Linked DNA regions of Homo sapiens. The protein of the gene in region 3 interacts with the protein of the main gene of each other region in a pairwise test. Each region holds a gene or a part of one and is shown on either strand. Other genes may lie near its edges.

Region 1 (7,027 bases), on a different chromosome or scaffold from region 3:
TGTTTTGCAAGTGCTCTTAACGTTTCCAGCCCACTTTAAAGACACCAAAAGTGGAAACTGTTAATGATGCATGATAGGTGAGGTTTACACAACGAGGGTCATGTGAAAAGCCAATCAGCAGGCTCTACAAACAGAAATACTTGGTCCTATATCGAATGAATAGCAAATGAGAGGGCATGTTTTCAGCTAGAAACAAAAAGGTTTAAAATACGCATGCATCATCTTTTATGACTCTCTGTCTTTTCTGACTTTTTAATTAACCAACCAATTACCAACCCTGGTTGCATCCTGGTTGCTTCTACTGCTCTGCTCTTGGGAAAGATGGCTGGGTTTGCAAAACTTCAAAATGTAGTGGAGATAGAAGTTTTCTTCATGTCCTAGCTCTTTGCTTTCTCCCCAAAGACATTAAACAAAAAGAGCAAAACCAGCTGATGGGTAAGTGAACATTTTTCCCTTGTCAGTTCTTTTCAAAAGTGGGAGAGATATCAAGAGATCACACATTTAGGGATGTGCTCCTTGGAGAGTCAAAGTGAGTTTCCAGCTGTCCCAGGGCCAGTAAGTGTCAGAGAAGAGAAAGAATCAGATCTGCACCCATTATGGCTGAAGAGGAAGCACTTTTGCCCAATAAAGACATTTCTAGATATAGAAATCAGTTTAAGACAAGGAGGACAAACATCTTCATTGTGGATCACCTTTTCCAGCTTTTTTTATGTGAAATTGAGTAAAAAGGAATGGAGATATTTATGTTGTGGCTCACAGTATGATACCCCTAAGTGTGACACTTTGGTATGCCTGAGTACTTTGAACCAAAGGAGATTGGAAGGCCTCAGAAGCAAGATCTCTCTGCCTTCTCTTGCCCTCCCCTCTCACACTCCTTTTTCTCCCTGGATGCAAGCCATAGAAACCAGAATTCCTCTTCCTCAAAGCCAGTCTTAGAAACTAGGACTCCTCTCCCTCAAAGCAAACATAAAACCTAGAAAGGTCACTCTCTTCCTTCTCCCTTGAAGGCCCTCCATTTAGAGGAGTCCGGCCCCATACCCAAGAGGAATAAATACTATGCAGAGCGTCCAAGAAGAATCTGAACAGACAGGGCTTGCTGGTCCGCTCACCCCCCAGTCTATAACCATTAGATCATACCCATTTTGTCCAATCACATTCCTTCATAGCTGACTATTCTGCATTAAATCTGAGCATAAAAATAGTTTTTCCTGGGTCTTTGGGTCTTCATTTCTGAAGCCTCCTGTGCCATGTAAAACTCTGATTAAATAAATGTGTTATGTTTTTCTCGTTAACTTGTTTTTGTTATAGGAGTGTTAGCCCTTAATGATGGCTGAGGAAAGGTATCACACCTTTCCACCCGTAAACTTAAAATGCTTTTTGAAGACCTCAATCTGAACAAATGAGGCTACCTGGTTGCGTTGTGTCTTATTGCTAATTCCGTTCACTGCAGCTGTGTTCACACACTGGCTACTCACATACTGCACGCAATGACTCAACATTGCCAGGTCCTCTTTTGGCCTCTTTGGTGAGAGCTACTGGCTCAGAAAGGAAGCAGCTGGGATGAGAAGTCTGGGAGAGTGGTACTGTCCAGGGAGCCCATTATGTAGAAAAAGCAATGGAAACAGAAAGCACCCCGCAGGCTAGGTTGCAGACAGGAAAGAAAAAAATTACGCAGGTATTATGGCCAGAACAGCCCGTACAAAAGAGCCACTTCACAGCGGAGGAAGCCTGGCTCACTGATTTCCCTGGCTCCTGTCTGGCCCCCATTCAATTTCTGTAACATCTACGAACCAGGGCCAACAGCAGCTGATAGTTTCCAGAGTCCTCAGAAAGGCTTGGAGGAGAGCTGTCATGAAACTGGAAAAGAAAAGGGCTCTTACAATTCGAGGAAGTTCATGCTAAGATTGGCACTGAGCCCTGTTGCTGACTTCCTCTGTAACAAAGTCCAAAGCAAATTGCTTCACCTTAATGGGCCCAGCTGTAAAATGGGGGAATGGTGCTCAGCAGCCTGGCAAGGACCGTAGACCCAGGAAGGTGTCGATCAACGACAAAGCCCTTGTGATAACAAAGTATCACCAGAATGCACATCACCACGTTGGCCAGATAAGCACGGGAAAGGCTTTGAAAACTCATCTTCCTGTGGACCTCTATAAGAAGTCAGTAATTTTTCATGGAAGATTTGGGTCAAAAAGAAATTGACTGCCTTCAGGGCATCAAGCTTCAGTAGAGAAACCAGTATAGGATGGTCAGACCCAGCACGGAGTTCTAAAGCAAAACCAACCCAGAGCTGCAAAGCGAATAGACATTTTAGCCACAGGATAAATGCAAAGTACCCAGACTTCAATGGCTCCCGGAAAACACAGGCAGGAAAACAAAAGCACCTTCCTAATGAGGCCCTTGTTATCATTTCCCCATACCTTCTGTAGTCTAAAATCCTGGACCCGAATACAAACGGGAGTTTTCCTTCGTTAAACCTTTCTCTGACTGGGTATCTTCCACTAACTCATTGCTCATGTCTACTTCTTGACAAAAAGTGAGTATATTATACATGTAAAGGAAAATGTAACAATCTCAAGCACCCCCAAACTCCTTATGCAAAAGGGAAAGTTAAGCCTGGAGACTGAGTCATACAAACAAATAGCTGTTGCTAGCATTATGCATGCAAAAAGCATTTTAGAGATGCTTGTGACTGCCAGAAAGAGTGATAGAAACAAAAGTTAACACAAATTAGCCTCTACTAGGTATGCGTCTCTCACTTCGTGATGCATCCTTTTATTTAAATCTTCATCACAGCTTCATGAGATAGTTTTCATTATCCTCTTATGTCGTGGTGGTGTTTTTCTTAACAGATGTGGAGATGCGGCCTGTAAGAGGCCTAACTGAGGATCACGGCAGACTCAGACTCAAGCCTTGTGCTCTTTCCAGCAGGCCACACTGCGTTTTGATAGCCCTGAGACAAAAGCACTGACTCAAACATCTATAGCCCGGTTTTTAAATAGGTAGACATTTAAAAAAACTTTTTAAAATAATTGTTATAAAGTCATACACAGTAAAATTCACTCTTTCTGATGTAAAATTATGGATTTAGACATACACACAGTCACGTAACTACCACCACAATCAAGAGAGAGAATACTTCTATCAACCGCCCCCAACTTCCACGCACCAAATTCCTTCCTGTTGCTCTTGTAATGAGTCCCTTCCCCTTTCCTGGCAACAATTTATCTGTTTTCTGGCCCCATAATTTTGCCGTTCTCAGAAAACATTGTCTTAAAATCCATGGCACTCATGAATTCAGAGAACGGCTGCCCTCTCTGTGAAAATAAATCCAGCACTGCGATACAGGAACAGGGAAATGATACTGAAAGCCAGCAAAAGCTGTAAGGTCCCCTCTAAAGCACCCACTCACCCCCAAGAAAGCAACAAATAAATGTAGGACATCCTCAGCATTTCAATTGGTGGAGAGGATCTGGGAGGCTTTCTGGGGGACCCCTGGAGCACCCAAACAGCAGCCACCACAGGACCTAGGATAAGGCTCCACTCTTTTTTCATCCTTGACCCCAAGCTTCCTATTTTTCAACAAATATAGCTCTGTGTTCTTATAGCCAGATAGTGAAATTGACAGGTGCTTATAATGCTATGCAGGAAAACGAATCCTCCTATGCCTGGGAAAGTCTGTCCCCAGAGAACCTGGAGGGCTCAGGGCTCAGTGGGCAGGGCAGAGAAGGAGGGAGAAAGGGAGGGAGAGAGTGATGGGGTTCAGAATACACTACCCCAAAATATGGCACCTTGGCATTTGAGGAACAGCAGAAGCAGGAAAGTCTCTCTGACCTTCTGCAGCCATTCTTTCCTGAAGCAGGCCATAAATAATTATCTGACCTTCCTCTAAAGTAGATTATAACACCCTCATCTTTAAAGTGTACAACCTATACCCAAAGGAAAGGAGTATCCTTATCTCTGAAGACACAGGGATGCAGCGAAGAATCCGAGCAAACAGGCCTTGCTAAGCTCCCCCCAGTTTATTGCCATTAAATCATACTCCTTTTGTCCAATTATACTTCTCCACATCTGTCTGCTATTCTTCAAACTTAAGCATAAAAATACACTGGTTTCTGTTGCTTTGGGTCTTCATTTTTGCAGGCTCCTGTGTCATGTAAATTTTATATTAAGCACATTTGTACATTTTTCTCTTGTTACTCTGTCTGTATAGGTGCCTCAGCTGAGAACCTTTAGATGGGTAAAGGAAAGATATTCATTTTTCTCCGCTACAGGAGAAAGGGATCTCTGCTGAATCAGTCCTGGCCTCCAGCAGAATCAATGACCCAGGGACTCCATCACATACCTGGCATGGCTTCTGACTGCCCCACACCGAGCTCCTCCTGGTAGCTCACTTTGGAAAGCCAGACACACCTTCAAAGACTCATTCCCAGAGCCTGCAGTTTCTTCCACCCAGGAATAAACCCTTGCTTAGGTGGCACTTCCCTCCACCCCAGAATATTCTTTCAAGCCATCCACTTGCAGCAGGTGGTAACTTTTCAACACCTCTACCCAGAGCATTGGAGACCAGGCTTTGCTGGAGGATTCCACCTGTAGCACCTGGGTTAACAAACGAGTTCAGATGTCTATAAATTAACGTAGAGCCTGTGACTGGGCCAGCAAGGATGCAGAGTGACAGTGGTTGCTTTCTTATAAGACCATGGAATCCAAATATAGGATCAAGGATCGATTTTCTAAGCAGTCCAGAGGCAGTGACTAAGAACACAAATGTCTGCTCTCTGAAGGCCATGGTCCTGCAGATGGGATGTGAGACTGGCAGGGCTGGCCTGGGGAGGTGGCAATTTCCCCACCCACCAGTGGTGAGTCCTGGCAAAGACCCAGGGAGGAAGCACAGCTAACATCTAACATCAACCATGAGACTTGAAAGCCATGTGTCAAGTTCCTCCAGCCTCTCCATGCTATTTCCTTTCCACACTCACAACACCTGTGAACCTGGGCCAACAAAGAGCTCTGAAGACTCAGGTCATGGCACTGAAATCAGGAAAAACTTCCTAGGGCCTTTTTATGGAAAAGACTCTTGTTAGGGTGGGAGGAGGAAAGTGAGGAGTGGAAGGGGAAGGGAGAGAGGAAAGAGGGGAGAGAAAAAGAAAGTTAAATAAAACCATATTTTAATTTGTAATACATATATCTCAGGCCAAACTTTAGTTGTGTTTATGAAAGAAGAACATTATAAACATTCATTATGATCTGGTTTTGGTAAAAACAATTAATGGGATAAATACATATATTTGAATGTTTCATTCAAATAAATAATAATATATTGTAATATATAGATTCTAAATATATAAACATCATATATGACATACAATACATAATGTATAGTATATATGTTAAATATCATGTATGGCATATATAATCTATAGTGAATATAATAACTATATTATATATGACATATATAATGTATGCTATATATGGTAATTCTATATTAGACTGCATATTCTAATTCTAGCCACTAAATTAGAATGAAAATGGAACTAAATATGCCAAAAGTTGGGTTTTTTTGCTCTTCTATATTTCAAACTTCTACAAAAATTCTACTTTATTTTGTAATCATATTCAAGAGTTATTGAAACTTTTAAAAGTTTATATGCTCAATGGGAAGCCTTCCCAATATTTATTGTTCCCATTTGGAGCATGGTCCCAAAGCACCCCTTAGAATAAGGGTCCCCTCTGGAGGCCATGTGAAAAGGACAGACCTCTTTCTGTTCACCTCCAGCACAGTGCAGAGAGGGGATGAGGTGAGTCTTCCATTCTTCCAATACCTTCAAAGGGGTCTTCCTTTTATCCTCGGAGTGGAGCCTGGGGGGAATAGGAGGAGCAGCTCCCTCTAAGTCATCCATCTGCCTCTCATCTTCTACAGACAGGCTTCCCCTGGCTTCCTGGAGCTGTAGGCTCTGGATAAGCAATCGACAAGCTTCCAAGTCAGCTTCCCACACTTTCCCAAGCAGTGGACACTTGCAGCTGAGACAGAGAGGAAACAAAGGCATAAAAATGAACTCAGTGATGTTTCATCATACCAAGTCGATAGCTTGTCTACCTGGCTAAAAGTCAGCTGGTCATCTTATACTTGATGACTTAATTTCACAGTGATAAATTATTTCAACTAGAAGATTCATCAGAGGGACCAAATTTGCACACCATCAAGTCACCATGAAATGTGCTGGTCCTTAGCTGCTTGGTCTGCAAAGGCATCCAAAATCCTATGTATTTTTCCAGACTCAGCAGCCCAATACAACACAGTTTCTGCTCATATATGTGTTACCAGCCCTACTGACTTGCTTTGAATCCTCAGACCTGTCCAACTCTTCCAGGCTAGATCAACTCTCTCTGTCCATTCTCCATCAACACACATATAACCAGGCCTTCATCTGACTAAATCATATTATCTTCAGAACTCGGCTTAAATAACCTTTTTGGGAGAAACATTCCCTGCCTTCCAACTGGAAAATATGATGGATCTCTTAGCATTTTTTACTTTTATTTCAGAGTATTTATGACAATTCTAATTATTTATGTGATTATTGTTTTCTTTTCCCTGAGGGCAGAGCTTGTAACTATGTTGTTCTCCACTCTATTGCTAGACTCTATTGTATTAGTCTGTTTTCATTCTGCTAAAAAGAACTGCCCAAGACTCGTTAATTTACAAAGGAAAGAGGTTTAATTGACTCACAGTTCAGTGTGGCTGGGGAGGCCTCAAGAAACTGACAATCATGGCAGAAGGTGAAGGGGAAGCAAGGCACCTTCTTCACATGGTGGCAGGAAGGAGAAGTGCAGAACGCAGGGGGAAAGAGCCCTTTATAAAGCCACCAGATCTCATGAGAACTCACTATCCTGGGAACAGCACTGGGGAAACTGCCCCCATGATTCAATTACCTACACCTGGTCTCTCCCTTAACATTTGGGGATTATGGGGATTACAATTCAAGATGAAATTTGGGTGGGGACACAAAGCCTAACCATATCATTTCAC
Region 2 (7,027 bases), on a different chromosome or scaffold from region 3:
GTGCATTGCTCAGAATTGCTCGACTTTGATTATAATTATCCTACGATCGATAAGGATCCAGGTGTACGTAACATAACACTGTATCACATTATTTAAATCAGGTCCTTTTCATTAAGCTGTGTCTGTTGGTGCTGGCTAGTTTATTGGTGTGTGTGGGTGTGTGGGGGTGTGTGTGTGTGTGTGTTAGAAACTTGTAACTATAGTTTCAGTTTTCTGGCCTATTATATTCCTACTGTCTTTGTATGTTTGTTTTGTATGATTCTTATTATTTTCACCAGAAGCGGAAACCCTTTTTAAGCTGAAAAAGGATGATTCATTTCGTACACAGTGAGGGCCCTCTTACCTTATTTATTTGCTCACATATTAATAGAGGAGACAGTTTTTCATGCAGTGTTTCTTCTGTTCATCTAAGGTCATCAATGCCCTACTCTATTTCAGCTGAAGTGGTTATTCACAAGTAAAGTTAGCCACTTTGGGGTTCTGTAGTCAGTTAACATCCAGGGAAGGGGAGAAGGTGGGTTCTAAGATTATGGCCATACTAACTTTTATCACTGCTTAAAATTAAACACAATGCACAACTGTAAGTAATTACACCCAAGGACTGATGTTGAAAGCTTGATTTCTAGCTTGATTAATGAATAATGGGAGATAGAAAAAGCCTGTGAGTGGATCCGAGCTGAGGCTCTCCCGGAGCGCTCTTTTTCCCAAGAACTGTTCCAGGCAATTTGATTCCTTTGTATTATTAGTTATAAGTTCCATGTTTCAAGGAATCAATTACAGAACTTTCTACTAAAGCAGGTATCTAAACAGAATAAACAAGATGATATTGTAAGTGATGAGGAATTTTAGTCTTTATTTGTTATGTTCCTCCCCCTTCAGGGGGAAGGGATGTGAGGGGACAATTCTCTTTAAGGAAACAGCTAAATCAGAGTATTTCCCTCTGAAATGTCATTCTTCCTGGCTTTCTTAAGCTATGCTATTCCACCATACTATTACTTAGGGCAAGAAAAAAAAAGTTGAGAAAGCAGCCTACAGTACCCCAGGGGTTTGTGTTGTGTGTGCATGCTTGCTTCCTTGGATGTATATTTCACTCACCATTAAAATACATCCACTATTACCTGAAAATATTGCAGGATTCAGTACCAGCATTTTCCCCTTCTATGCATTTCAAGGGAGATAGAGAAAATGGCAGGAAAGTAAAACAGAACGGTGTTTTGATTTGTTTGCATTTTGCAGGATGCAGAGTGGTTAAAAATTTAAAATTGTAGACTTAGAATCTAACTCTTGATTTTCTACAGCCTATCTCAGCCTCTGTGCGCGCACATAAATAATACGTATTTTATTTCACCATACTGAACTGCTTTTATATTAATGACAGCCAATTGCAATAGAACACACAATCTTTTGTGAGCACATCTTGTGAATATATCTTTTATATATGTAAGTTATAGGATTCTGCCCCTGCCCACCCAAAGCAATTAGATGTTTCCCTCTTGCTGACTCTTAAAGGCTTTCTGATCACCCAGATCTGAAGAGTCTTGCAAGAAAGAACAGCTCCCTCAATTTATTTTGTTTATTTAATATGGAGATGAATAATGCAGATTTTGTTTTCATGAATGTCCTTGTGTGGCAGTAAACATTAGACTATTAGCAATCATTACTTAAAAGTTGCAATTTGCACCTTAATAACACAGGTTATTTACATGGGAAACATAGTCAACAGGGACAACTCTGAACACTGCAACAGAGCAGAAATGACCTCAGAGATCTCTTTTCCACCTCTTGATAGTGATGACTCTGAATTAACCGGTGAGGTCCCAGAAATCTCAACCAACAGGATGGAGGGAGGGGGCAGGCAGCTCAGGGCGAAGTTTACCTTTAATTTACTGTCAAGTGGGACAGCTTTCAAGAGACTAGGAATCGGGTAGATTTGGGACCCTTCCTCCCTCACTTTGTTTAAACATCCTTCAGAAAGACAAGTTCACATCTTGAATATTTAAATATCTCACGCGATGGATTCCTTCACTTGCCCAAAAGTATGTTTTTAACAAATGAATGGAAAAATACACACACACACACACACACACACACACACACACACACACACACACACGCATGGACACAATAAAGTCCAAAGGGTCTTAGCAGCACAAACTCTTTTGGCCATTCTTGTTACTTAAGGCAGATATCTGAAAAAGGAAGGATAGATTCCTTGAAATCGCTTGGTCCACACAACATTTTGGACGGAAATTGATTGCTTAAGTGGTCCTTTTCCCACCCCCGTCTTGATTTCCTTCTTCCACCTCTCACCTCACCCTTAAAGACTCAGACTGAATAGGACATCTCAAAAGCCCATTTGTTTTAGGCATTTATTGATTTCATTTTTAATCTGCCATATCAGGACACAATACGTTAACCCTAATCAGCAGATTACAAGTGACAGAGAGTTTAGTGGAAACTCTGTAAGGGAGCAGGGGCTCCGGGAAACTTCTTGACAATGAAAATCTTCTCTGAGGCTTAAGAGTTTGGATGCTGAAGATTACTTTTGGGGAGGGGAGAAACATTCCTCAGAAACAGTCTACATTTTTTTCTTCCACTTTACATTTCTTTATCTCCCAGTTGCCCATTCTACTGCTACACTTTGGGAATGCTTAACACCCAAGAAATACCTCCCAAGTATTTTTAGGAGGTCGGTCCCTGAAGCAGCTTGACTTTTGTCATAGTCTCCAACGGACGTTTATGCTTTCATTTCATCCCAGCTGATTTCTCATTCATTTGACGGAATTTCTCCAAAGGATAATACCTGAGTTGATCTGTTTCTTTTCCCAGGGCCTTGGGAATTGTGCTGTCCATTGAATGGGTTTTGGTCATGGGGGTGGGGGCACAGACTGAGCCTGGCATTTTTTAAAGCCATTGAAATGATGCCTCACTGTTCATCACTGCAGCTGAGCTTATCAAGTCAACCAAGAAGAAAACCTAGGCCCTGGTCACGTTTGTGCTATGCCTGTAATTAGCTGACACGAGGTAAATGTCCAAAGTCGACCTTCCCTTCCATCACTGTATTTATACTATCAATTTTATTTGGGAATGTCATGGTCTGGGAAGACTCAGCCACTATTTCGAAGGCAATGCCTGCTTCTACCTAGGTCCCCTTTAAAAAAACACAGAAATTGCCGAACAAATTCTATATTAAGACCAGGCATACACGGAGTATCATTTTCGTTTGATGCAAAGTCAGTTGGAAATACATTTAACTAACAGTTAAATAGTGTCTTGCATCGCTTCCCTGAAGCAGTGGTTTTTCATTACATATTTAATTACAATCAAACTGAACGACTTTTATTAAAAAAATCACAGTGGTATTAAAAGAAGCCTGGCGCACAAATAATTTTATTGCTTCACAAGTTGAGAACGCTTTTATATTTTTATTTCTTTGAGAGAAATTTATTTTAATTTTCTAATGTTGTGATAAATACAGACTATCTTTTACTGTAGTCTGTAATCAGGGAGAGCTTATCCTTCTATCTTTATAGAGTCTGCTTACCCCAGAATAGGTTTTTACATTCATTTTTCAGTAATTTGTAACAATTGGTATTTTTAATTTTTTTTTTAAGTTTTACAAGTTCTATTTAAAGTTAGAAATTCTCACATTCCTTAGGGTGATCTTTGGCAAGCAGCTCTTCGATTATAGGAGGAAGTTAGTCATTCTAACCACATAAGAAAGTGGAGAGTACTTGCTTGCTTACCTGAATATTACAGTAAGAAAAAAACACCATCTATTTACATGCCTCTAACATGTAACACTATTTTCACTGGATTTATAATTTCTTTTTTTTTTCCTCCTACTGACCTTTCATTCACTTGTTTTGGGAACTTTTTCTGAGAAGAACGTTTAGAGATAGCATTTAAAGTGGATTTCAAGATACATCAGATTTTAAGACATTGTAATAAAAATTAGAGACTTCAGAGCCCAACGGTTCACTGCTAGTCTAGGTCTGCAAACTAATGAGAAAGCACCTCTGCAAACACATAGTTTCAACTTTAACTTGCACATGAATGGGGAGCGTCTCCAGCAGTGTGGCCGTATCCATATTGCTCATTTTGTCCGAGAAATTATTTTGTCCAAGGGTATCAGACTGAGGTCCGTTCAAAGACATTATATACATACACAGAGACACAGAAGAGAAATCTGAGATGCGAGTGGGAATTGCTGATATATTTGTTTCCAAAGCAAACTCCATGAATGAAATGATTCAATAATTTGGAGGCATTTGAAAGTCATTAAAATGGCCATTTGGAATTTTCAGTTGTTGCCTCCCTCAATTTTTTACGTTTCCCCTGTAGAAAAAGACATCCTCTGGGCACCCTCAAATATTCTGGGATGCTAAAGTCATGCTAAAATTATTTACAATTTTAGAAATTAAAATTCAGGAGGCACAGCAAGATAATCCGATTATTAATATATCAGTATTATTTAGCTATGCATAACAACAGGAAAACGCACAATGCAAAAGTTTTAGAGATAATGAGCTTAGAGAAATTACATGGGGGGAAGAAATACCTGGATCATATTTGAAAGCATTTGTCTTGAATTCTGCTCATCTAAATGAGAGCTCTCTTTCTACCTGTGTCATTTAAAAAACAATTTCAATATCCTCCTACCTGCTACCCCAGCCTGAAGCAGGGACTAATGAAACTCTCTCTGGACACACAGATGTAAGACACTATATTACACAACACTTTTTAAAAAATTGTTTCAGAAAACCAAATGTGGGCATGCAAACCAAAAGAAAAACCTCAAGGATCTTCGTAAGATAGCTAGCTCAGGGTTCAAGATCAAGAGAACTTTGTTGCGGCAGGATAAGAAGACAACAGCATTGCGTTTTAGCTAAACATCTCTTCTTGGCAAATGAGAAGCGGTGAAGCAGGGAAGATTTTTTTAAGGAGCTTTTTAGCTCTTTTGCATCTCTCTCCAAAGACTAATTTAATTGAAAAGCTGTAGTGTCCATTTATGATTAAGGAAAGGCCTCATGTTTCCACAACACTGCTAGACACTAAGGTGGGTTTGAAGAAAAAAAAAAAAAGGCCAGCATTCTGCAGTTTCTGTTAGTATAAAAATTAAGATCACTGGTCTTAATTACTTGAGTGCTTTCAGAACTGAAGGAATACTCTAAAATCACCCCTGAGCTTTCTTCTTAAAGCCACATCTAAGCCATTTCTATGGAAATTATATAGTTTAGATATTAAGGTGGGTAGAATACAGTTATTGCTTTTAATGAAAATAGTTACGAAGGGCAGAATGAGATAAAAACAGAGTTGGCAGCAGCCATTCTATTTGTAATGAATTTGAAAGAAACTTCCGTAATGCTTTACTGGATCATGAAAAACCCATGAAACCTTGTGACATGGGAGATACAAAAATGAGACAGAGGGTCAAGGTCTTCTATAGGGGAAAAATGGCTTGTGTAAGTGAGAGCAGTGGCATATAAATATCTCTATATAAACTGCACAGGGCTTACTTTAAATCACTTCAATTTATCAGATCCTTGGAATTTTTTTTATGTATTTAGGAGCCTCTCTTTTATACCCCAGAGAGATATGAATAGCTTCTGGGCCAAGATGATGCTGTAGAGAAGAGTCAAATCTATTCTATGTGCACGGTGCCATTTGGTACAGAAGAAATGCCAAAATGAAAAGCCATAAATGCGTTTTATATCAGAATTGCCTTTGGCTATTTTCCTTTATTAGAAAGTTGGGTACACTGCTGAGTGCTTCTTCTTGTTTTCCCCCTTGGGATTAGATTTGAGACTGTGGATGGAACAGCGGAGTAAGGGCAAGTGACTTGGGTTCTGGTTGCAGCCTTGCCCCACGCTAGTTATTTAGCCCCGGGCAAGCTCTAGAGATAAACCTTACTCTCCGGGTAAGAATGTGAGTTTTTGGAGTCAGACTGATTGAAGTTCAAGTCTCTAGGTCTAATTCTTATTCGGCCGCGTAAACTTGGGCAGGCTGCTCAAATCTCTGCCCTCCACTTTCTAATCTATAAAATGGGGGCAATCATATGTTCCAGGTGTGTGGAAAGGATTGTGTCAGAGGAGGGCTGAGAAAGTGTGCTGAAACTGTTAGGCACCACAGGGATACGAGGGAATAGTGTGTCTTTACCCTGAATAACCAGACTATGGAAAATTTATATTAACTGGGAAACAAGCAACTTACCAGTTATCACAGAACAAGGGGTCCAGGGCTTGAAAGAAACCAGATATGGATGGATTTTGATTTGTAAGCCTGGAAACACAATGGCTAAGCAGTGTTTTAGCCTCTTCTCCTGAGGCAGACTCATTCTGGGCTGTTTGGAGTCCAGCACCCGCTCAAAAAAGAGTTTCTTTCCCAAGAAATAGAATTTATAGCACCACCAACAACGGTAACAATGGTAACAATGATATCTGCCACTAAACAAGTGCTTTTTACATACCACGTGCTTTATATGTTTACATTTATTCGTTTACACGGCAGTTATTTCTTGAGTTCCTACTATGTGTCAGATGCTGTTCTACTACCTGGACCTGGAGGTGAATAGGATGGGGATGATCCCTGGGGATCTTGCCCTCCAATTGGGGGAAGCTAGAGAATATACAAAGAAATTTATAAAGGAAAAGATAATTTCAGTATAGAAAAAAAGCTTCATGATGGCAATAGCTTTATAAAAGCAAAATTATGAGAGCAGGAGTTGGGACAACAGAGATGTAGATGGTCAGGGGAGACCTCTCAGAGGAGGGGACATCTGGGCTAAGTCCTGTTCCTTATAACTTTCAAGTATAATCCCTGTTTTACTGATGAGAATCTGAGTAAGTTGCAGGATAACTCATTCAAGTTCGTGCGGTAGCCAAGCTGAGTTTTAAACTCAGCTCTTCCTGCTTCCAAAGTCCATGCATTTAATTTATTATGATCGTTTATCTAGAATAGTCATAGCGAGTTGCCAGGAAGGACCCAAGGAAGAACCCTCAGTCTTATTATTCTCCCCCTGTGTCTA
Region 3 (7,027 bases):
TTGAGAGAAGCTGGAGCTGTAGGTTCTTCCTTTCCCCTTACCCTGGCTGGAACAGCCGAGCTCTCCTTTTCCCGCAAGATCTCCCGGTAGCTGAAGGAGGAGATGCTACTGCTGTCCCCTGTCTGGGTCCGGCTTGGTGAGTTCATCTCTGAGAGAACCAGCTCCTCAAGGCCTGGGTGGTGGAGGGAAGAGAAACTTGAGCCCCAATACCCCTGAGTCCCAGGGCAGCAACCAGCAGGAAGAGGCAGAAATAGATTTAACAGAGATGGAAAGAGAGACACCTGGGCATGGGGAAAGGCAGAAGCAGACAGGAGGACAGGGAGAGACAGAGACAGAAAAAAGAGCTGAGGCTGGGCGCACTGGCTCACACCTGTAATCCCAGCACTTTGGGAGGCTGAGGTGGGCTGATCACTTGATGTCAGGAGTTCGAGAACAGCCTGGCCAACATGAAGAAACCCCGTCTCTACTAAAAATACAAAAATTAGCCAGGTGTGGTTGTGTGTGCCTGTAATTCCAGCGATTCAGGAGGCTGAGGCAGGAGAATCGCTTGAACCCAAGGAGGCGGAGGTTACAGTGAGCCGAAATCGCACCATTGCACTCCAGCCTGGGTGACAGAGTGAGACTCTTGTCTCAAAAAAAAAAAAAAAAAAAACAGAAAGAAAAGAAAGAGCTGCCTTTCTGGAGAAACACATACAAAATGAGAGGGAGAAAATGGAAGAGGTTGGAGAAAGAGAACGACATGGGTACACATGGGTCTCAAGTGGCAGACACACTTGGACACAGGGTTCAGAGAAAGGAAGACAGCTAGAGAGGGCACAGGGCACATCCACTTGCAGAAAGAAAATGCCAGAGATGGAAAGCCAGAGCAGATGATAGAAACTGAGACCCTGGTGAAAGAAGTGAGCCAGAGCAGAGACAGAGAGAAAAAAAGATGCCGGGCGCGGTGGCTCACGCCTGTAATCCCAGCACTTTGGGAGGCCGAGGCGGGCAGATCACGAGGTCAGGAGATCGAGACCATCCTGGCTAAAACGGTGAAACCCCGTCTCTACTAAAAATACAAAAAATTAGGTGGGCGTGGTGGCGGGTGCCTGTAGTCCCAGCTACTTGGGAGGCTGAGGCAGGAGAATGGTGTGAACCCGGGAGGCGGAGGTTGCAGTGAGCCGAGATCGCGCCACTGCACTCCAGCCTGGGCGACAGAGCGAGACTCCGTCTAACAAAAAAAAAAAAAAAAAAAAAAAAGAAATGCAAGCAGGCTCTCGTACCCACGCACCTAAATCTCAGTTTAATCTAATGGACAAGGTGAATGTATTGAATGTATGGTATACGATTGTAACGTTTCCCAAGATTATTATTATTATTATTTTTTAGACAGAGTTTCAGTCTTGTCGCCCAGGCTGGAGTACAATGGCGCAATCTCGGCTCACTGCAACCCCTGCCTCCTGGGTTCAGGCAATTCTCCTGACTCAGCCTCCCGAAGTAGCTGGGATTACAGGCGCCCGCCACCACACCCAGCTAATTTTTTGTATTTTCAGTTGAGACGGGGTTTCACCGTGTTGGCCAGGCTGGTCTTGAACCCCTGACCTCAGGTGATCCACCCACCTTGGCCTCCCAAAGTGCTGGGATTACACCTTTCCCAAGATTCTTACATTCATCTGTGATAAAACAGAAACAAAACTCCTTTTTAAAGAAAGGTTACTTCAGGAGACCGAGTGCCTCAGAGAGAAATTGATTTGGTGAGAGATACACATCTGTTTTGCCACATCACTTAAAGCCCTCGAGGATCTCTGGCAAGGGTGGGGTGACTGAGTGGGGATCCGTAGGTATCCCGAGTGGGGGAATAAGGGACCAAGTTTTCTCTGAGTCTGTAATCTAAGAGATGCACCAGAGCCATCACTGCATTTTACTTACTTAAATGTATTTATAGGCCATCCCCGTCTTAAAAAAGGCTGAAGCAACTAAAGTTGTGTGTGTGTGTGTGTGTGTGTGTGTGTGTGTGTGTGTGTCTTCTGCTTGAAGTGGCAGAAATAACAGATTGGATTAGCTGTATAATGAAAACACCACAGCGTTGCTGACTATGTATAAGTCTGTCTCCGTAGCTCAACTGGGGGCTTCTAGAGGGCAGAGACTCAGGGAGTTTTATATCAGGGACCCTGTACTTGAGCAGGGAGATTTATAGAATGAGAGATTGTATACAATAGATTTAGAAATGCCAAGTGAGGTGTGGGAGTGTGTAATGTAGTACATACAGTGAGGAGACAGACAGAGATATAAACAGAAGAGACGAAGAGGACACAGAGTGGCGGGAAGAGATAAAGGGACAGAGAAAAGAAAGGGCGGGGGCCGGGCCCAGTGGCTCATGCCTATAATCCCAACACTTTGGGAGGCTGAGGCGGGCGGATCACCTGAGGTCGGGAGTTCGGGACCAGCCTGACCAACATGGAGAAACCCCGTCTCTACTAAAAATACAAAATTAGCTGGGCGTGGTGGTGCATGCCTGTAATCCCAGCTACTCAGGAGGCTGAGGCAGGAGAATTGCTTGAATCCAGGAGGCAGAGGTTGCGGTGAGCCGAGATCACACCATTGCACTCCAGCCTGGGCAACAAGAGCGAAACTCTGTCTCAAAAAAAAAAAAAGAGAGAGAAAAGGAGAAAACTAGAGAAAGAAAGCAAGGAGATAAAGGCAAACATAGAGGAAAGAGAGAGAACAAACTGAGACAGAGGCAGAGACAGAAACAGAGAAGAGACAGGGCAAAAACGAGAGAAAGATAGAAATAAAGAGAGAATGCAGAGAAAGAATCAGAGGAGAGACAGAGAAAAGGTAAAAGATGGAGTTCCAGAGCGACAGAAGCAGGAAAGCACAGCTGAGGAAGATGCAGGACTAACCTGCAGCCTGCAGGCCCAGGCCCTACCTCCCCCATGCCTCAGCCTCCTCTCCCTGTCCTAGTCCCTCACCTGAGCGGCTCTTGCTGTTAGTGAGGATGTCCTGCAGTCGCTCCTGCAGCTTATCTGCCCGTTTCCGCTCCAAATGCAGCTGCCGCTTGAGGTCCTTGAGCTGTGGGGGACAGGGGTAACATGAGGACTGAGGCCCAGTGGGCCCATAGGAGGGAGGCTACAGGTAGGAGGGAGCCGTGCTTGGGCACCGCTCTGTCTTACCGCAGCACTGCCCTTCTTCTCCAGGATCCTCTGCCCATCCACTGTGTCCTTCACCTCCTGTGGGAGAAAGCAGGCATGGCTGGTAGATGCCGGAAGGGCTGCCTGAAGCATGCTCCCTCCCTGCCCCTCCTGTACGCTGAGGATCAGGGGTGTGTCTGGGGCTGTGCAGTGACCACTGACCTGCTTCAGGCTGCTAATGGTCTTCAGGTGGCAGTCCCGCTCCTCCTGGGCCTGCTCGAGCTGATCCCGTACATCCTGTAGCTCCTCCTCCTTGCCCTGCAAAGCAGAAAGCAGCTTAGGCATTGGCTTGGGAAGCCTCTGTCCTCCCAGGAGGGCCCGTCACTGTCTGGAGAGAGGAACACCATCATGCGAGAGGCACCTTCAGCTCGGCAGCGTGCTGCTCCCGACACTGCTTGAGGGCTTCCTCTTGTTCCTGCTGCTGCTGCTGCAGGGATTCCTACAAGACAAGTCCCAGGTCTGGCCACAGCCCCCCAGAAGGTATCATGCCCAGTTAGGGGTATGAGGGACTGCAATGGGGGCCCAGAGGTATGCAGAAATGACCCTCCTGCAGGGAACCCCACACGCCCTTAGGCAATATGCTGAAGTGTCACATCTAAAGTTGCACCATTCGCATGGTTGACTTAGATTTGCATTTACATTTTATTTTATTTAACAAAACATAGCGCTTACTACATGCCAAGAATGTTCTAAGGGTTTTACATATATTAACTCATTTTCTATAATCCTCCCGTAATACCTAGATGGTAGATATTATTGTTACCCCCTTTTTACCATTGATGAAAACAGGCCACAGAGAGGTCAGATAACTTGCCCAAGGTCACACAGCTAGGAAATGGCCCAGCCAGGATTCAAACCTAGACAAACAACTGGCTCCAGCCTGTGCTCTTCACTGCTACATGACAATGCCTTTCAGTGTATTATGAGATTTCCAGAAAATGGCAACAAAGGTTCTTTTTCCGAGACAGAGTCTCACTCCGTCACCCAGGCTGGAGTACAGTACACGATATCAGCTCACTGCGACCTCTGCCTCCTGGGTTCAAGTGATTCTTCTGCCTCAGCCTCCTGAGTAGCTGGAATTACAGGCGCCAGCCACCATGCCCGGCTAATTTTTGTATTTTTAGTAGAGACAGGGTTTCACCATGTTGGCCAGGCTGGTCTTGAACTCCTGACCTCAAGTGATCCGCCCACCTCGGCCTTCCAAAGTGCTGAGATTACAGGCGTGAGCCACCGCACCCAGCAGGTTCTTGTTCAATAACATCAGTGTATTGCATTAATTTCCTGACAGAAGTACAGTTTCAGGAGAAAGAGGTGCCTTTCCAAATTTGCACAAAGGCAGGGCAGCCTTAACACGTGACAGTCTGTCCTATCTGATGGCCATCCCCTGATCCACTCCAGAGGGCTGCTATTGAGCCAGGGGACTGTGGGGATATCCCTAAGTCCAGAAAATCTCGGGAAGTTCCAGGGCCTGACCACTCCTGCTTCTGTGGTTTGACATGAGGGCCCCAATCAGCCTCTGTTCCTCACCAGGCATCACCAACTCACCTCGGCTTCCTTCAAGCGCCGTTCAAACCAGCCCTTGGCTCCATCCATGGAATGTACCTGAGCTTGAAGTTCTTCCACTGTCTGCTGGAGAGTCTCCAGCTCCCGTGTCCGGGCCTGGGATGGGGCAGACTGTCATGGGCCAGGAAGGCAGAGGAGCGGGCACCTGATGCATGCCACCCACTGGCCTATCAGCAACGCTGTGGTTCCCAGGTTTTAGAGGAAGAAGGGCATCATCATCTACCCACCCACCTTCTCCTCCCGGATCTGCCCACGGAGCTCCTCCTCCTGACGCTTCTTGTCTTCATGCAGCTCTCGGAGCTCACGCTCATAGCGGGCACGCACCCCCAGCACCTCCTTCTCATGCCGTAGACGAACTGCTCCCAGCTCTTCCTTGTGCTGGGACTTCTCTTGCAGCGTTTCCATTGCTAGCTCATCCAGCATGGCCTTCCGCTTCTCCGCACTCTGGGGGCCAGGACGATGGCAGTCAACTTCCTTCCACAACATCGAAAAAAGGCCTCCAACCCTCTTCCCATGCCCAAGGAACTAGCCAAACTCCACTCCCTCCCATCCCCACTGAACTGGCTAAGGCACTCACCCATCCTTATAGAACTGGTCACTTTCTTTCTTTCCCCTCCCACTCTCATGGATTTGGCCAAGAAACTGGTCAACCAGAAACCAGTCAATTTTCCTTTCCCTCCTATCCCCACATGTTTGGTTATATCACCTCCTCCCATCCCCATGGACTGAGCCAATTCCTACCCCCCATCCTCTCCCTTCAACCCTCATGTTCCCCTACCTTCCGAGCCTCCTGTAATTCCTGGGTCAACTGCTCCTTCTCCTGCCCTATTTCTTGAAGTTGTTCCAGCAGTCGACTATTGGCCCGTAATGACTCCTAATGCAGACACCAAAGGGAAAGAGTTTGATAAAGAGCATCCAGTAGGTGCTAGTCACCCAGGACCATCTGGTAGACCATCTCCCTTCTCCCTGGTAAAGTTGGTATTGTGATCTCAATTTCTGGATAGGAAATATAGCAGAGACTGCTAGTTGCTCCCCAGTATTCATTCTTCCTTACTTCCCTAGCAATAAAATTTATCATCGGGCATACAGCTGTCTAGCAGATGTTTCCCCTCCTCCCTTATGGTTAGGTGTGGCCATGTGATTTATTTCTGTATGTGGAAGTGGTGAGTGTAATTTAGGTTATGCTCTTAAAGGAAAGGGGCACACTCTTCCCTGCCCCTTTCCTCCTTCCTTCCAGATAGAATACAAACATGATGGTCGGGGAGTTTCAGCAACCGTCTTGGATGCCAAGATAAAAGTCTTGTGTTGAAGGTGGAGGAACAGCAATGGAGAAAGAACCTGGGTCACAGATGACTGGAAAGCCATCATTCCATCCCTGAATAACCTACCTGGACTTTTAATGAGAGGGAACTAAATTTGTATCTTATTTAATCTACTATTATTCTGGTTTCTATTATGGAATCAGAATGGATATTGCTTGGGAGGCTGAGCCGGGTAGATCTCCTGAGGTCAGGAGTTTGAGAAGCCTGACCAACATGGTAAAACCCCGTCTCTACTAAAAATACAAAATTAGCTGGGCGTGGTGCCAGGCGCCTGTAATCCCAGCTACTCCGGAGGCTGAGGCAGGAGAATCGCTTGAACCCAGGAGGCGGAGGTTGCAGTGAGCTGAGATCGCGCTACTGCACTCCAGCCTGGGCAACAGAGTGAGACTCCATCTCAAAAAAAAAAAAAAAAAAAAAAAAGGAGCCGGGCGTGGTGGCTCACGCCTGTAATACCAGCACTTCGGGAGGCCGAGGCGGGCAGATCACGAGGTCAGGAGATCGAAACCATCCTGGTTAACACGGTGAAACCCCGTCTCTACTAAAAATACAAAAAATTAGCTGGGCATGGTGGCAGGCGCCTATAGTCCCAGCTACTCGGGAGGCTGAGGCAGGAGAATGGCGAGAACACGGGAGGCGGAGCTTGCAGTGAGCCGAGATCACGCCACTGCACTCCAGACTAGGTGACAGAGCAAGACTCCATCTCAAAAAAAAATTAAATTAAATTAAAATTTAAAAAATGAAAAAGAATTGATATCCTAACTAACTGAAGAGGCTCAGTTTCAGAGAAGTGAAATGACTTGTCCCAGAACACACAGGTGCTAATAAGTTAGGGAGCCAGACTGGAACCTAGGTCCTCCTGACTCCAGTCTTCCCACTCCACCTTACTGGGGACTTCACTGGGCCATTACTAGGGAACTAGGAAGAGACAGGCCAGAGCCAAAGGTGTTACCTGGAGCTGGGAGTTGAGGTCAT
Region 4 (7,027 bases), on a different chromosome or scaffold from region 3:
AGTCTTGCCCTGTCACTCAGGCTGGAGTGCAGTGGTGTGGTCTCAGCTCCCTGCAGCCTCAACTTCCCAGGCTCAACTGATACTTCAGCCTCAACCTCCTGAGTAGTTGGGATTACAGGCACAAGCCACCATGCTCAGCTAGTTTTCTTATTTTTTGTAGAGATGGGGTCTCACTATGCTGCCCAGGCTGGTCTTGAACTCCTGGGCTCAAGTAATCCTCCTGCCTTGGCCTCCCAAAGTGTTGTGTTTACAGGCATGAGCCACTGCACCCAGCCTTCTTTTTATTCTTTTTTTTTTTTTTTTTTTTGAGATAGAATTTTGCTCTTGTTGCCCAGGCTGGAGTGCAGTGGCGTGATCTCGGCTCACTGCAACCTCCGCCTCATGGGTTCAAGCGCTTTTCCTGTCTCAGCCTCCCGAGTAGCTGGGATTACAGGCGGGTGCCACTGCGTCTGGCTAATTTTTGTGTTTTTAGTAGAGACAGCGTTTCGCCACGTTGGCCAGGCTGGTCTCAAACTCCTGACCTCAGGTAATCAACCTGCCTCGGCCTCCCAATTTATTCTTGAGTAGTGTTCATGGTATAGATTTACCACAGTTTGTTTAGCCATTTACCTGTTGAAGGACATTTGAGTTGTTTCCAGGTTATGGCTATTATGAGTAAAGCTGCTATAATCATTTGAGTACAGGTTTTTCTGTGAACACATTCTCACTTTTTTTTTTTTTTTTTTTTAGGCGGAGTCTTGCTCTGTCACCCAGGCTGGAGTGCAGTGGCATGGTCTCGGCTCACTGTAACCTCCACCTCCCGGGTTCAAGTGATTCTCCTGCCACAGCCCCCTGAGTAGCTAGGATTACAGGTGTGTGCCACCATGCCTGGCTAATTTTTTCTATTTTTAGTAGAGATGGGATATCACCATGTTGGCCAGGCTGGTCTCAAACTCCCAACCTCAAGTGACCCACCCACCTTAGCCTCCCAAAGTGCTTGGATTACAGGCATGAGCCACCACACCTGGCACAAATCATCATTTCTATGAGATAAATGCCTAGAAGAGCAATTGCTATGTCATATAGTAATTGCATGTTTAGTTTTTTAAAGAAACTGCTAAACTGTTTTTCAGAGTAGCCATACCATGTTACATTCCCACCAGCAATACATGAGCAATCCAGTTTCTCCACATCCTCACCAGCATTTGGTGCTATCACTATTGTTCACTTTTAACCATTCTGATAGATGTGTAGTAACATCTCATTGTGGTTTAATTTACATTTCCCTAATGGCTAATGATTTTGAACAACTTTTTATGAGCCTGTTTTCTATCTGTATGTCTTCTTCAATGAAATGTCTCTTCATGTCTTTTGCCCATTTTCTGTTTTTTTTTTTTTTTTTAATTTTTGTTGAGCCAGTATCTCACTCTGTCACTTAGGCTGGAGTACAGTGGCATGATCATAGCTCACTGCAGCCTCCAACTCCTGGTTTTTGTCCATTATCTAATTGACTTGCTTATTTGATTTCTTTTTCCTGTTGAGTTTTTTGTTCACATTTAAATCATTTTTTTAACAGCTTCAAGAGAGAATTCACATAACATCCAGTTCCCCAGTTTAAACCATACAATTCAGTGGATTTTACTGTTTTCACAGATATGTGCAGCTGTCATCACATTTTATTTTAGAACATTTTCACTATCCTGCTATCCCTTCTTCCCCACCTCCTGCCTCCAGTCCTAAGCAGCCACTTATCAACTTTGTGTCTCTATAGATTTCCCCATTCTGGACTTTGATATGAATGGAATCACATGTTATGTGACCTGTTGACTGTCTTCTTTCACTTAGCATAATGTTTTCAAGATTTATCCACATTGTAGCATGAATCACTATTTTATTTGTTTATGTGGCTGAATGATATTCCATTGTATGGATATGCCACATTTTGTTTATGCATTATGTCAGTTGATGGACATTTGGGTTATTTCCACTTTTTGGCTATCATGAATAATGCTACTATGAACATTCATGTACACATTTTTGTGTGGACATATGTTTTTATTTTTCTTTGGGGCATGTATCTAGAAGTAGTACTACTGGGCCATACGGTAACTCTGTGTTGAAGTTTTGAGGAACTGCCAAACTGTTTTCCAAAGTGGCTGAACCATTTTACATTCCCACCAGCAGTGTATGAGGGTTTTGATTTATCCACATGCTCACCAACACTTGTTATTGTCTGTTTTTTTTATTTTACCCAGCCTAATGCATCTGAATTGGTATCTCATTATGGTTTTTATTTGTATTTCCCTAGTGACTAATGATATTGAGCCTCTTTTCCTGTGCTTATGGTCATTTGTAGATCTTCCTTGGAGAAGTCTATTTGAAGGCTATTCTCTATTCTTAGAGAAGTCTATTCAAGTCCTTTGCCCATATTTTAGTTGGGTTATTGGTCCTTTTATTATTGAATTGTAAGAGTTCTTTTTTTTTTTTTTAAATCTCACTCTTGTCGCCCAGGCTGGAGTGCAATGGTGCAATCTCATCTCACTGCAACCTCCACCTCCCAGGTTCAAGCGATTCTCCTGCCTCAGCCTTCTGAGTTGCTGGGATTACAGGTGCCTGCCACCACGCCTGGCTAATTTTTTTGTATTTTTAGTAGAGACGGGGTTTCACCATGTTGGCCAGGCTGGTCTTGAACTCCTGACCTTAGGCGATCCACCCACCTCAGCCTCCCAAAGTGCTGGGATTACAGGCGTGAGCCACCACGCCTGGCCAAGAGTTCTTTATATTTTCTAGATTCAAGTCTCTTACCAGATAAATGACTTGCAATTATTTTCTTTCATTCTATAGGTTGTCTTTTTACTTTTTTGATGATGTCCTTTGAATCACAAAAGTTTTAAATTTTGACAAAGTTCAATTTAGCTATATTTTCTTTTGTTGCTTATGCTTTAGGGGTCCTATCTAAAAAATGGTTACCTACTCTAGGATCACAAAGATGTACTTCTTTGTTTTCTTGTTAGAGTGTTATAATTTTAGCTTTTACATTTAGGCTTTTGATCCATTTTAAGTTTTGTATATGGCATGAGATAAGGATCCTAATTCATTATTCCTCATGTGGATATCCAGTTATTCCAGCATCATTTGTTGAAATAATTCTCTAATTGTTCCCCTATTGAATTGTCTTATCACCCTTGTCAAAAATCAATTACAGTAAAGTGAAGGTTTATTTCTGGACACTCAGTTCTATTCCATCAATCTATATCTCTATCCTTAGTCCAGTATAACAAATCTATATGTCTTGATTACCGTAGCTTTGTAGTAAGTTTGAAATCAGAAAATGTAAATCCTGGCCTGGTGCAGTGGCTCACGCCTGTAATCCCAGCACTTTGGGAGGCTGAGGCAGGAGGATCACCTGAGGTCAGGAGTTTGAGACCAGCCTGACCAACATGGTGAAACCCCGTCTCTACCAAAAATACAAAAATTAGCCAGGCATGGTGGCCCATGCCTGTAATCCCAGCTACTTGGGAGGCTGAGGCAGGAGAATCGCTTGATCCGGGAGGCGGACGTTGCAGTGAGCTGAGATCGTGTCATTGCACTCCAGCCCGAGCAACAAGAGTGACACTCCACCATTGCACTCCAACCTGGACAACCAGAGTGAAACTTCATCTCAAAAAAAAAAGAGAGAGAGAAAATGTAAATCCTCAAACTTTGTTCTTTTTAAAATTGTTTTGGCTATTCTGGCTCCCTTGCATGTCCAGGTATCTGGAAGTTACATGGATCAGCTTGTCAATTCCTGCAAAGAAGCCAGTTGAGATTTTGGTAAAGATTGTGTTGAACCTGTAGGTCAGTTTGGGAAGTGCTGTCATTTTCACAGTATTGTTTTCTGATTCATGAACTTAAGCTGTCTTTCCATTTATTTAGGTCTACTTTAATTTCTTTCAATAATGTTTCTTAGTTTTCAGAGTATACATTTTAACACTTACTTTGTTAAATTTATTCCTAAGTATAACATTTCTATTTGGAAATAAAATTTTTAATTTCATTTTAGATTGATGCTGTCAAATAGGAATACAAGGAGTTTTGTATATTGGTCTTGTATCCTGCAACATTGCTAAACTCGTTTATTAGTTTTTTTTTTTTTTTTTTTTTGAGACGGAGTCTCGCTCTGTCGCCCAGGCCGGACTGCGGACTGCAGTGGTGCAATCTCGGCTCACTGCAAGCTCCGCTTCCTGGGTTCACGCCATTCTCCTGCCTCAGCCTCCCGAGTAGCTGGGACTACAGGCGCCCACCACCGCGCCTGGCTAATTTTTTGTATTTTTAGTAGAGGCGGGGTTTCACCTTGTTAGCCAGGATGGTCTCGATCTCCTGACCTCATGATCCACCCGCCTCGGCCTCCCAAAGTGCTGGGATTACAGGCGTGAGCCACCGCGCCCAGCCTTATTAGTTTTAATAGTTTTTTTTTTTTTTTTTTTTTTGAGATAGAGTCTCATTCTGTCACCCAGGCTCGAGTGCAGTGGCATGTTCTTGGCTCACTGCAACCTCTGCCTCCCAGGTTCAAGTGATCTTCCTGCCTCAGCCTCCTAAGTAGCTGGGACTACAGGCTTGTGCCACCACACCCAGCTAATTTTTTTGTATTTTTAGTAGAGACGGGGTTTTACCATGTTGGCCAGGCTGGTTTCCAACTCCTGACCTCAAGTGATCTGCCCACCTCAGCCTCCGAAAGTGCTGGGATTACAGGCATGAGCCACCATGCCTGGCCAAGTTTCAATAGTTTTTTAGTGGATTATTAGTTCACTCTTCTTTTTGGTGCTCAGATTGCCTGATTCTAGATCATGAGAGTCCCTTCAAGTGGGCTGTCATGCTCTTTTGATACTGTCCACCAACAGACTTTGATAGTTTTCTTGATTCTGACACAATAAGATGTACCAGGTTCATCCTGTTCAGTTTCTGCTCCAGTCTTATATTGATTATTTTCCCAAGGATTGTTGGTTCTTTTTAGTGGGAAATGGTATTTATCTGTTTTCACACTGCTATAAAGAACTACCTGATATTGGGTAACTTATTTAAAAAAGAAGGTGTAATTGACTCACAGTTTCACATGGCTGGGGAAGGCTCAGGAAACTTAAAATCACAGTGGAAGGGGAAGCAAGGCACGTCTTACTTGGCGACAGGAGGGAGGGAATGAAGAAAGCCACACTTTAAACCATCAGATCTCATGGGAACTCACTATCATGAGAACAGCATGGGGGAAACTACCCCCATGACCCAATCACCTCCCACCAGGTCCCTCCCCTCACACATGGGAATTACAATTCAAGATGTGATTTGGATGGGGACACAGAGCCAAACCATATCAGGTGTTTAATAATATCTACAACCTTGGTATTGGATGAACTCATTGCTATTGGATAGTTACTGCAACATGGCAGTAGCCAACTAAAAATGCCTGCGCTAAATAAACAGCAGGTCTCAACTTTAGCTGCACATTACTATCACCTGGGGGAACGTAAAAGGTATCCATTAATTAGGAATTTCTGGGGGTGGGACTCGGCCCTTGATTTTTTTTGTTTTTGTTTTTTTTTTTTTGAAACGGAGTCTCGCTCTGTCGCCCAGGCTGGAGTGCAGTGGCACGATCTCGGCTCACTGCAAGCTCCGCCTCCTGGGTTCACGCCATTCTCCTGCCTCAGCCTCCCGAGTAGCTGGGACTACAGGCGCCCACCACCACGTCCAGCTAATTTTTTTGTATTTTTAGTAGAGACGGGGTTTCACCATGTTAGCCAGGATGGTCTCAGTCTCCTGACCTCGTGATCCACCCGCCTCGGCCTCCCAAAGTGCTGGGATTACAGGCTTGAGCCACTGAGCCCAGCCAGATGTCAATACTTTGTAAAGCTCCCCAGTGACTCCAAAGTGTAGCTAAGATTGAGAATTGCTGTAATAAAGCACAAAATGACTACCAGCCAGAGAGACAGTGCTCTAATAGTAGAAGTAACTTATTTTGTTGATCAGATTAGGATTTCATATACCTAAATTAAAGTAAATGAAAATAAAGCTGTATCATTGAAAACTATTTGGCAACTACTTTGAGAAACACTTTGGGAAAGTGTTTGAATTAACTTATTCAAACATTTATTATCAAACATTTTAAACAAATACAAAGAATTGCACAATGAGTCCCCACGTGTCCATCACCTCACTTTAACAACCATCAACTGATGGCCATTCTTGTCTCTTCTATATCCCTACCCATTTCCCCCGCTACTCTTGAGTATTTTGGAATAAACTCCAGACATACATCTGTAAATGTTTCAGTACATAGTTCTAAAAGATTGGGATTGGAGCTTTTAAAGATTTTTTTTAAATGTATCCTTACTATAGTATCACACCAAAAAATTTTAACAATATGAATTTTTATGTTACATAGGAAGATATGATAAGAGAACAGAAGATATACCATAAATATTTGGCACAGAGACGTGAGGAAGAAAAAGCTCAGGAGAAAGAATTTGACAGAATATTAGAGGAAGACAAGGCAAAGAAGTTGGCTGAGAAGGACAAGGAGCTGAGACTTGAAAAGGAGGCAAGGAGACAGCTTGTGGATGAGGTCATGTGTACAAGAAAACTTCAAGTTCAAGAAAAGTGTAAGGAACTGAATTACAGTTATATTATAGCTTGCCCTTAATTCAATTTAAGTAACAACCAAAATACTAACAACCATAATACTTATTATGTAAAACACCATGAGGGATGCAAAAAGGATGAAGGCAGGAGGCCTGTTATTGCAAATCTTATCTAATTGGATATATATGAAGAGACCAGCAGATTCCAATCAGTCACGGGGAGAAGTTCTCAAGGTTAAAGGAACAGTACATCATTTGAATACTGTATGTCTTGGTGATTAGAATGAAGAGTGAGAAGGTGGGGCACAGACATACAGCTCCCCCTTGTCCTTTGTATCTGTCCCTCTTTTCTTTCGAAAGTTATCTCCATACAGTTTCGGGAAGTCAGGGACCCTGAATGGAGGGACCGGCTGAAGCCACAGCAGAAGAACATAAAT

What was found.
Region 1: the proteins of GRIPAP1 (region 3) and DISC1 interact in binary tests that used the Homo sapiens proteins (3 or more experiments, as listed by UniProt).
Region 2: the proteins of GRIPAP1 (region 3) and TSHZ2 interact in binary tests that used the Homo sapiens proteins (3 or more experiments, as listed by UniProt).
Region 4: the proteins of GRIPAP1 (region 3) and CFAP53 interact in binary tests that used the Homo sapiens proteins (3 or more experiments, as listed by UniProt).

What each region holds. Positions count from the first base shown.
Region 1 is NC_000001.11:232,007,776-232,014,802, reverse strand, and holds part of DISC1 (disrupted in schizophrenia 1 protein), read right to left. Parts: intron 6,019-7,027; coding exon 5,754-6,018; coding exon of another isoform or gene 5,649-5,753; exon of another isoform or gene 5,149-5,648; intron 1-5,148. UniProt on the Homo sapiens protein: Involved in the regulation of multiple aspects of embryonic and adult neurogenesis. Required for neural progenitor proliferation in the ventrical/subventrical zone during embryonic brain development and in the adult dentate gyrus of the hippocampus.
Region 2 is NC_000020.11:52,975,357-52,982,383, forward strand, and holds part of TSHZ2 (teashirt homolog 2), read left to right. Parts: intron 1-7,027. UniProt on the Homo sapiens protein: Probable transcriptional regulator involved in developmental processes. May act as a transcriptional repressor.
Region 3 is NC_000023.11:48,978,264-48,985,290, forward strand, and holds part of GRIPAP1 (GRIP1-associated protein 1), read right to left. Parts: coding exon 7,005-7,027; intron 5,608-7,004; coding exon 5,512-5,607; intron 5,178-5,511; coding exon 4,965-5,177; intron 4,830-4,964; coding exon 4,716-4,829; intron 3,610-4,715; coding exon 3,532-3,609; intron 3,429-3,531; coding exon 3,333-3,428; intron 3,210-3,332; coding exon 3,153-3,209; intron 3,052-3,152; coding exon 2,952-3,051; intron 173-2,951; coding exon 42-172; intron 1-41. UniProt on the Homo sapiens protein: Regulates the endosomal recycling back to the neuronal plasma membrane, possibly by connecting early and late recycling endosomal domains and promoting segregation of recycling endosomes from early endosomal membranes.
Region 4 is NC_000018.10:50,242,484-50,249,510, reverse strand, and holds part of CFAP53 (cilia- and flagella-associated protein 53), read left to right. Parts: intron 1-6,394; coding exon 6,395-6,611; intron 6,612-7,027. UniProt on the Homo sapiens protein: Microtubule inner protein (MIP) part of the dynein-decorated doublet microtubules (DMTs) in cilia axoneme, which is required for motile cilia beating.